3 linked regions of the Homo sapiens genome follow. The protein of the gene in region 1 interacts with the protein of each later gene in a pairwise test. Each region holds a gene or a part of one and is shown in the gene's direction. Other genes may lie near its edges. The genes, in order: STX17, TLR2 and MAP2K4.

Region 1 (3,661 bases):
TCTACAATATAATTTCTAGGCTTCTCAATACTGGCTTCTTACTATGCTTATGTTCCATATTCTGAATATTTTCTTGAAATGTGTTACCTAAAATTGAATGCAGTAAATTGTTTGAATTGCTTCTGGATGCCTCTAAGTTAGAAGAAGCAAAATATTTGAAGTTTCTGGATTAGGTATCTGTACAATATTAATATACTCGCAAACAGAAGGAAATAATAGAACAAGAATCCCAAAATATCTGTTGTTTCAGAATCAACATTTATTCAACTATTGTAAACTAATAATCTCTGAATCCAGTGCAGTTTGTAAAACCTATACATGTATGGTTACACAAATATATACACTTGCCAAAAGTCATTGGTCTGTACACATAAAATGTGTTTTAATATATGTAAATTATACCTCAATAAAGCTGATTTTAAAAAACAAACTACACATGTACAAAGTTCTTACTCAGTACAAACACATTTCTTTTCTACTGGGATAGGCACATAAAAGAAATATTAAAGGTCTGTGACCATAAGATAGTTACATGTTTGATTATATTATGTAAGCAGCTCATAACCTCTAATCTAAGGGAGATTTGTGTAGGAAAACTCTGGCTGTAGCCACAGCTCTATACAAATGTCCTGTTTGTAATAATCTGTTTAAGTACATGAGACAGAATGCTAATAAGCAAAAGCTCAAAGGAGAACCCCTGATTATTATTCCCAGGGTGACTAAGTTCTCATGACCACATGGCCAAGGATTCACAGAAGCTCTATTTAGGCACAGAATGACCTAGGAACATAACCAGAGTGACCACATCCTCTCATTATCATCACATGGACATGATAGTGTCTAGACAAATTAACCATGTATTTAAGGAACACTTTCTATCTGCGTAGCACTGTGCTAAGCTTAATGAGGAATAGAAAAAAGCATTTAAAAAACTTACAAGATAGTAATAGTGGTTGCACAATATTGTGAAGTTACTTATTGCCACTAAATTGTACACTTCAAAATGGTTAAAATGGTAAATTTATGTTATATTTATTTTACCACTATAAAAAGAACTTACAAAGCCATTGACAGATCAAGGTATAGTACAATAAATGTTAATAAATTAATATCTACTAGGTACCCTGCTCTATTTTTCTTCAGCCTTTGTTGTTCAAGTGCCCTCTTCTCTCCCTATAACTTTGTAACTAGCCCTATTTCTAGTCAAGGAGAATTTAAAGAACCCTGGGCCAGTAGTTCAGTAACAACTCACCCTTGCTGCTAGTCTGTTTTGACTTCTGCCTTTTGCCTTATTCCCTGTCGTTTTTGTAATCCAGTTTTACTCTGGAAACATAAAAACTGGTTGCAATGGATTAGATCAGATTCCTTCATTTATTACCTATGTGACCTTCAGGATGTTATTTGACAACAATGAGCTTTATAACACTGATGGGAGGACTAAATGAGGTAATGTGTATTATTAAGTACTTCCCATTCTGTTCCCTTCCACTGACCCCAACTGCATTCCCACTTTTGTCCTTCCTTTATTTTCATTCCTTGTTTGGCTCCTTGCAAAAATTCTACTTTTTCCACCACTATTATCCTTAGGCATTTTAGTACTGGAATTCCTTCAGTCCCTTTCCAACTGCTGAATCCTCTGTTAGCAACATCCTACTTATCTACTCTGCTTATTGCTTACTCGAAGCCAATATAATCACTTATTTTGCCTATATATCATAGTATTTATAAGTTTGTTTCTGGGCCTTTTTGTGTATATGATTGCATATGATTAAGGAGTATATAGAATATATCATAGGAGTTTAGAACCAGAATAGCTCAATGTGAACAGGATTGGTCAAGATCTAAGATTAGAACTTGGCCTTGAAGGCTGGCTGGAATTTAGAGAGGAATAAATGGACGTACCTGGAGTTTTGGTATTACCCTCTTAAATAAACTCGTAGCTTTCCAAGAACCTTAAACTTTACAACTACTATCAGAACTCTCTATGGAAGACCACTGTTAATGATATAAATGGATTTGGGGGTTAATTTTTGAATGTATTATTATTGCTTGACATAGAGGATGCTAGGCCTACAAGTGTCCCCAACAGGCATTCAAGAACAAAACAGTTCATTGGTTTTGAATTTATATTCCCAAATTGCATTCTGCTTGACAAGTATAATAAATCACAGTTTATACAGAAACTTAGGTACTCCTATAGCTGTTCGTCAAGATTTGTTATGTTCAGGCCAATAGGGGGACTTAATTCAATGTTCTTTAAAATGAAATCCGTAGACATATTCTTAGAGTCATTTGAGAATTTTCTTTTTCTGTAAAAGGAGGTCAGTATATTACTCTAGCTTGAGAAACACTGCAGTGTAATGAGCTAAACACTTAAATATGGTTTAGCTCATTGTTAAAGGAATGCTGAGAACATATATGGGGTGCCAAACTATAAAATGGCAGGTATGGAATTTGAAGATTGTCAAATGTGGGAGGCCTAAGCAGATGAAAATAAACATGAGCAAATCAGAAGCAAAACCTCAGGGGAGATTGATAGATAGAGGTTAGGAGGCTCCTGCACCACCATTAATGTTTAGAGCTTGATTTCACAGGCTGGGGCAGGGTTGTATATGTATCTTTTGGTCCCACAAAAAGAGCCAAGGACATAGTGGACAGGTAGTGACCCAATTCAGCTCTGTATGGAGTCTGGTTTGGCATTCTGCTGATGGTAATTGACAACTCTGTGACAATAGTTTGCTGCCTAACTGTAACCTTTGTGGGGGTCAGTGAGTCCTCCTTACTCAAGAAGCAGAATTTGAAGATATGGGCAAAGTTTGAAGTTGCAAACCAAGCAAAATACGGACAAGAGAAAGGCAGACGTGCACAATCGAGGGGTGATTATTGATCCCAGGATAGGGGCTGTCTGCCCTCTGCCTTATTCCCACACCCCAGCCCCATATCTTAGCATGCTTTCTGATGGCATGAATAAATACTTATAGATGTGGGCTACTCCCCAGGGTGGGATGGGCCTCATCAAATGCTGGTGATTGCAATGATGGGGAACTTTGTAGTTCAAATAATTAGTGATCTCAGGATTGGTTTTTTGCCTGTGGTTGCTTCTTCAGTTATTCCAAATGATTTTTATGAAAAAATATTTAAATTATTTTAAAATTTTGCTTTAATTTTTAAAAAGTCATAGAAGTACAATATCCAACCCTTTTTAAAGGAAGGAACATTAGAAAGTATTTCCCTGAGGCTTTACGATTACACTTGGGGTATAGAAATGGCAATAATCCTGGCAGGCTCCTCCCTCTTGCTGGAATTATTTTGGGGCTGAAGGAAGGGAGACACTGACTATTTTTCCTCTACCTTTCAACTCATCAACATATGACGGCTGATGGTAGAGTTTTAAGCCTGTGATTTATCTGCTAGCATAGACTGTTTCAGGCAAGAGTGGAAAGTGTTGGGGGTGTCCTAAATAGAAACAATGATAGGGTGTCAGAAATCTAGACAAGTTGTATATTATTAGTGCTGGAACTTTTTCTTCTATGGGTCAGAAAAAGAAAGCTGACTTAAATAAGTTTTGCTATTGAGGAAAATAAAAATTGAATGATTGAATGAATGCTAAAAGATACCTGAAGTTTTAGTGTCCTAGAATTTTCAAGCACCGAAAGAAAAA
Region 2 (2,902 bases), on another chromosome or scaffold:
TCTCAGTGAAAATTTGATGGTTGAAGAATACTTGAAAAATTCAGCCTGTGAGGATGCCTGGCCCTCTCTACAAACTTTAATTTTAAGGCAAAATCATTTGGCATCATTGGAAAAAACCGGAGAGACTTTGCTCACTCTGAAAAACTTGACTAACATTGATATCAGTAAGAATAGTTTTCATTCTATGCCTGAAACTTGTCAGTGGCCAGAAAAGATGAAATATTTGAACTTATCCAGCACACGAATACACAGTGTAACAGGCTGCATTCCCAAGACACTGGAAATTTTAGATGTTAGCAACAACAATCTCAATTTATTTTCTTTGAATTTGCCGCAACTCAAAGAACTTTATATTTCCAGAAATAAGTTGATGACTCTACCAGATGCCTCCCTCTTACCCATGTTACTAGTATTGAAAATCAGTAGGAATGCAATAACTACGTTTTCTAAGGAGCAACTTGACTCATTTCACACACTGAAGACTTTGGAAGCTGGTGGCAATAACTTCATTTGCTCCTGTGAATTCCTCTCCTTCACTCAGGAGCAGCAAGCACTGGCCAAAGTCTTGATTGATTGGCCAGCAAATTACCTGTGTGACTCTCCATCCCATGTGCGTGGCCAGCAGGTTCAGGATGTCCGCCTCTCGGTGTCGGAATGTCACAGGACAGCACTGGTGTCTGGCATGTGCTGTGCTCTGTTCCTGCTGATCCTGCTCACGGGGGTCCTGTGCCACCGTTTCCATGGCCTGTGGTATATGAAAATGATGTGGGCCTGGCTCCAGGCCAAAAGGAAGCCCAGGAAAGCTCCCAGCAGGAACATCTGCTATGATGCATTTGTTTCTTACAGTGAGCGGGATGCCTACTGGGTGGAGAACCTTATGGTCCAGGAGCTGGAGAACTTCAATCCCCCCTTCAAGTTGTGTCTTCATAAGCGGGACTTCATTCCTGGCAAGTGGATCATTGACAATATCATTGACTCCATTGAAAAGAGCCACAAAACTGTCTTTGTGCTTTCTGAAAACTTTGTGAAGAGTGAGTGGTGCAAGTATGAACTGGACTTCTCCCATTTCCGTCTTTTTGATGAGAACAATGATGCTGCCATTCTCATTCTTCTGGAGCCCATTGAGAAAAAAGCCATTCCCCAGCGCTTCTGCAAGCTGCGGAAGATAATGAACACCAAGACCTACCTGGAGTGGCCCATGGACGAGGCTCAGCGGGAAGGATTTTGGGTAAATCTGAGAGCTGCGATAAAGTCCTAGGTTCCCATATTTAAGACCAGTCTTTGTCTAGTTGGGATCTTTATGTCACTAGTTATAGTTAAGTTCATTCAGACATAATTATATAAAAACTACGTGGATGTACCGTCATTTGAGGACTTGCTTACTAAAACTACAAAACTTCAAATTTTGTCTGGGGTGCTGTTTTATAAACATATGCCAGATTTAAAAATTGGTTTTTGGTTTTTCTTTTTTCTATGAGATAACCATGATCATAAGTCTATTACTGATATCTGAATATAGTCCCTTGGTATCCAAGGGAATTGGTTGCAGGATCCTCGTGGATATCAAAATTCATAGATGATCAAGTCCCTTATAAGAGTGGCATAGTATTTGCATATAACCTGTGTACATTCTCCTGTATACTTTAAATCATCTCTAGATTACTTATGATACCCAATACAATGTAAATACTATGTAAATAGTTGTACTGTCTTTTTATTTATATTATTATTGTTATTTTTTATTTTCAAAATTTTTAAAACATACTTTTGATCCACAGTTGGTTGACTTCATGGATGCAGAACCCATGGATATAGAGGGCCAACTGTAATCTGTAGCAACTGGCTTAGTTCATTAGGAAACAGCACAAATGAACTTAAGATTCTCAATGACTGTGTCATTCTTTCTTCCTGCTAAGAGACTCCTCTGTGGCCACAAAAGGCATTCTCTGTCCTACCTAGCTGTCACTTCTCTGTGCAGCTGATCTCAAGAGCAACAAGGCAAAGTATTTGGGGCACTCCCCAAAACTTGTTGCTATTCCTAGAAAAAAGTGCTGTGTATTTCCTATTAAACTTTACAGGATGAGAAATACTAGAGGGTGTATTTTCATGTGATCTGGATCTGTCTTTCTGGCTATTAGATAGGTTTCTCCAGCCATAGTTACTTGAGAGAGTGAGTACACAGTGCAAGGTACAGTAAATTATGTATTTCTGTAATTTAACAAAATAAATACTCAGTTTAGGAGAATTTGAAAGACACTTCCCACATCCGGACTCTGGTCTTCCTCAGCCTCTAACTACCTTTTGAGTTCTAGTTATTGTCCAATCACTCTGACTCTCAGTTCCTGTTTTTTAGCCTATATCTCCTGCATCTTGTTGCTTTTTCCTTCTTCGAAAAGTCTTGTTTTTAATTCTAAAAAAGCCTGCCCTTTTTCCCCTTCTGAATATTTTAAAAAGTACATGTGAGCTAAATAGATTTTTAAGCAAATATATACCTAGAGTTTCCTCATAATGACTCAAAAATAGTTTGATACACAGTAATTTAAAGGTAGATACTACTACCATATGTTAATTTTGCAATCTAGGTATAATAATACCACACATTAAATTTTGATGCAACTTTCTTTGGTAAGCACTATTTGCTGATTCTATGTAACTTTCTTAAGCTGGGAACCATGTGAAAGGAAGTGAGCCTTTGACCCCTGCTCAATTCTCAACCAGAACTGGGTGTATGTGGTTAATTGGGCACTAGAGTCAGAAAGACCTGGGTTAGTAGATGTGTAATCTTTGGCAAGTCAGTTGACATGACCCAAAAAGTTTTTCTGTCTTTAAAATAGGGATGATGATCTCTATATCCTAAGATACTGAGAGTATGAAATGTAGGAATGTAAGTAAACCATGAGCC
Region 3 (3,661 bases), on another chromosome or scaffold:
AGTTTACACAACTCAAGGTGGGCCTTTTGAATGAAGAAAACAATTACATTGTATGCAGCTTGGTTCTTTAAGAACAACACATTATTCTCCACCACGGAGAAAGAGGATTAAAATGGACATCACAGCAGCTTTTTCGAGCTATATTGTATTTCATTTTACCCAAAATTGCTCAAACATTGAAAAACGAGGAATCAAGAAAAGTGTTGCCAGACATATATATCTGAACATACACACACACACACAGACACCAAATTGTTCAAACATTTAAAAAAAGAGGAATCAAGCAAAGTGTTACCAGACATATATATCTGAGATATATATATGTCAGATGTATATATATCTGACATGCCTATGTCTATTTATTGCCTGGCTTTGCTGAAGAAATCAGTGACATTAAGGAGCTCCCCTGATGATTTTGGCAGTTTCCCTGGGATCTGGTTATGTGCCTGTCATGGGGAAGCATCCATCTTTTTGGGGTTGTTAGAGTCCTCAGGATACCAGGCTGTGCCTAGGAAGGGTTGTGGCAGAGGTGTAGAGGGTGGGGTGTGGATCTCCAGGGCTGTTTGGAGTCCTTCCCTTTTAATTCTCTCAAGGTGACTGTGAATGAAAGGAGAAAGACTGGTTTTGTGTAGGTTAAGCTGGTCTGGTGAGCACCAGAAAGATAGGGAAGGTGCCATAATCGTTGCTCCCATGAGGGAGAGAACAGGAATAATAGTGCCTGTGATAATAATAACCTGCTTTAGTCCAGGCTTTTGGTTGGACATTTTAGATATATTTTCCCATTTAATCATCACAAAGCTCTTTTGGGTATTATTTTATTTTTCACAAATGAGGAAATTGAGGCTCATAGAAGTTAGATACTTGCCCGAAGGAACATAATTGTAAGTTACTGTCTCAGTGTACTGTGCTTCATTAAACAGGCTTGAGAAGGTAATGTGGCATTTAATTTTGTGGCCAAAGAATAAATAAGGTGGTCATTGCCCAAAGAGAGAAAAAGAGCTGGCATTATGAGGACACTTGAATTTAAAAAGTGTGGAAGGGATTTGATGAGTATTTTATCAACTCCTGACTGGTGGATGATTCTAACAACCTGGAATTGCTAACTTAGGGTGGCTCCCTTTTGATAGTTTCAGAAAGTTGACATAAGGAAATCTGAAAGAAATAAACCATCAGGAAATAAATCTTGGGGAACTTGCTCTGAGTACAATGAAAATACAAATTTAGGGTAGGTTTAGATAACGCCTTACATGTTAGAGCCATAATGATATACTATGGGTAGCTGTGGTTTAAGGCACATGCCAGAATTTTGAAGTTGGAAGTTTGAAGGTGTCAGACAAATAGACCCTTCATGCTTGTGACAGAGGAAAGACTTTGTAGCACGGTCTTATGGGCATGACCCAGTAAGGCAGCTCTGATTTTCTTTACATTAGTGTGGGTTCATATTGTAGTTCATAATGCACTTTCAGCAGTGCAAAAATCCAGAATGTCCAGGGAATCAGAAGCAACTACTGAGGAGATAGGAAACCACTTATGTCCGGCCCCACACCCTCTCTGATTTATATTATCAACCTAGAGGAATGGGAATGGAGATAACTACAAAACCTCATAATGGCCATTACACAAGCAAAATTAGATTTAGGCACACTGTTTTCAAACCCTTAAGATAATATTCTTTATTTAAAAATGACAAAACTAGGACTCAAGTGAAATGACTTCAGTTTCACAGTTGGAACTAGAACTCTGGTCTCCTAACACACTTCATTTTGTTTTTTACTTTATCGAACACCATTTGCTTTTTGTTTTTATAAACACTTACACATCCTAAACAGCCGCTTACCTCACTGTATTTGGTAAGAACAGTAAATTGTAGGTTTCAAGTTATGGCCACATAAAAGATCTTAAAATTGAGGTAAGAGGGTGAGAATGAGGGGCAAATGTGGGAACGAGGGTAGGAGATACGTAGAGAGAAAAAGGAGGAGGAAAAACCCTCATGTAGCTTTATTTCTTTTATAGGCTTACTAGCATTCTGTCCTATGCATTTTGATATTGATTCATCAGTGTCAAGAATTAAGAATTTAAATTCTTAAATAAATATTATTCTTGATATTTATTCTAAGATTTAATTAAACTTGCCTGGGGCCAGGAAAAATGAAAAAGACTCAAATTTACCCCTACTTGTAATGGGGAAAATATAAATGGAGGATCATGTCAAATTAAGCCCCAGGGTACAGATAGTTCACCCAGATATAAAAAAGTGAGGCACACACGACTTAAAATGTAACCAGTTAACTATCAACAGGTTCAACGGATTATCTAGTACCTCCAGAGATAGGACTTAAAGTAAGTGAATAGGAAGTCAGAATTTCGGAGACAAGGGAGACTTCAAAAATTGAACATATTGGCCAGGTGAGATGGCTCATGCCTATAATCCCATAACTTTGGGAGGCTGAGGCAGGAGGATTGTTTGAGACTAGCCTGGGCAACATGTTGGGACTCCATCTCTACAAAAACAAAAAACAAAAAACTCCAAAAGTTAGCCAGACATAGTGGCTTGCACCTGCTGAGATGAGAGGATTGCTTGAGCCCAGGAGTTTGAGGCTGCAGTGAGCTATGATCATGCCACTGCACTCCAGCATGAGCGACAGCAAGACCCTGTCTCTAAAAAAAAAAAAGAAAAAAAGAAAAATTGAACATATGTGAGTGAATACTAGTGAATATTATATCATAACTAAGAACTTGCATTTTGTAAAGTTGAGGATATTGGAAGTTTTCCTCATTTTTCCTTCCCACCATCTTTCTCTTGTGCAAGACTGTTGCTTGTCCCCTTTGCCCATCCTTACCCTTTGAGTATGAGCTAGTGGAGCTATTTGGTACTTTCCCAAATCTGCACTATAAGCACTAACTTTCTGACTTTTGCAGGTCTTAAAGATTTAGACAGACTAACTAAAAACGCTTCTTCCCTAATTTAATAATGTTAAGAAAGTTACAGAATTGCTAAAGAAAAGGTGAGCCAGTGTGTTCCAGTTAATTTAGACCTTGCTTGTCAGTGGACTCTGGGCGAGTTACCAAGTATTTTCTTAGTGAGAAATAATGTGGAGAGATGGATGTTTGGATGAGACCCCAGAATTCGTTCACCTGGTCACTTCATAATTAGATACAAAGAACAAGTCTATACTTATGCTTTGAACATTTTAATCCCCTTCCCACCTCCTTTGTAGCTACTTATATAGATTCTGTACTGGTGACAGAATTTCAGGTTTTGAGAATTTTTTAACACTTAAACTGGCGCTTAGCTTTTAATGTGTTAGAGCAATCATTGGCGACATTCTGTCATTCTCAGTCACATATACCTTAAAATTTTTAATATATTATACACTTATTAAGCAATGTAACTTTTTTTAACACAACCTTACATATAGATCCAACTGATTTCTTTTTCATATACCTTACAAATTTGTTTTCTTGCTCCTTTCGCCATCCATATTACTATTTTGTTCACCTCTTCTCTCTCCTTTTCACCTCTTTCTTTTTGCTACCTAGTAACAGTCAATCAGGGTATTTTGCTTTAAAGTTGTTTGTTTCCCAGCCTCCTCTCCAGTTGTAGTAGAAGGTGAGTTTTACCTTCCCTTTTCCAGTGGGATGCGGGGAAGACTTGCCTGCT

What was found.
Region 2: the proteins of STX17 (region 1) and TLR2 interact in a two-hybrid assay, tested with the Homo sapiens proteins (one large-scale study listed by BioGRID and IntAct).
Region 3: the proteins of STX17 (region 1) and MAP2K4 interact in a two-hybrid assay, tested with the Homo sapiens proteins (one large-scale study listed by BioGRID and IntAct).

The regions. Positions count from the first base shown.
Region 1 is NC_000009.12:99,962,110-99,965,770, forward strand, and holds part of STX17 (syntaxin-17), read left to right. Parts: intron 1-3,661. UniProt on the Homo sapiens protein: SNAREs, soluble N-ethylmaleimide-sensitive factor-attachment protein receptors, are essential proteins for fusion of cellular membranes.
Region 2 is NC_000004.12:153,704,005-153,706,906, forward strand, and holds the end of TLR2 (toll-like receptor 2 precursor), read left to right. Parts: coding exon 1-1,258; 3' UTR 1,259-2,256; downstream 2,257-2,902. UniProt on the Homo sapiens protein: Cooperates with LY96 to mediate the innate immune response to bacterial lipoproteins and other microbial cell wall components. Cooperates with TLR1 or TLR6 to mediate the innate immune response to bacterial lipoproteins or lipopeptides.
Region 3 is NC_000017.11:12,027,257-12,030,917, forward strand, and holds part of MAP2K4 (dual specificity mitogen-activated protein kinase kinase 4), read left to right. Parts: intron 1-3,661. UniProt on the Homo sapiens protein: Dual specificity protein kinase which acts as an essential component of the MAP kinase signal transduction pathway. Essential component of the stress-activated protein kinase/c-Jun N-terminal kinase (SAP/JNK) signaling pathway.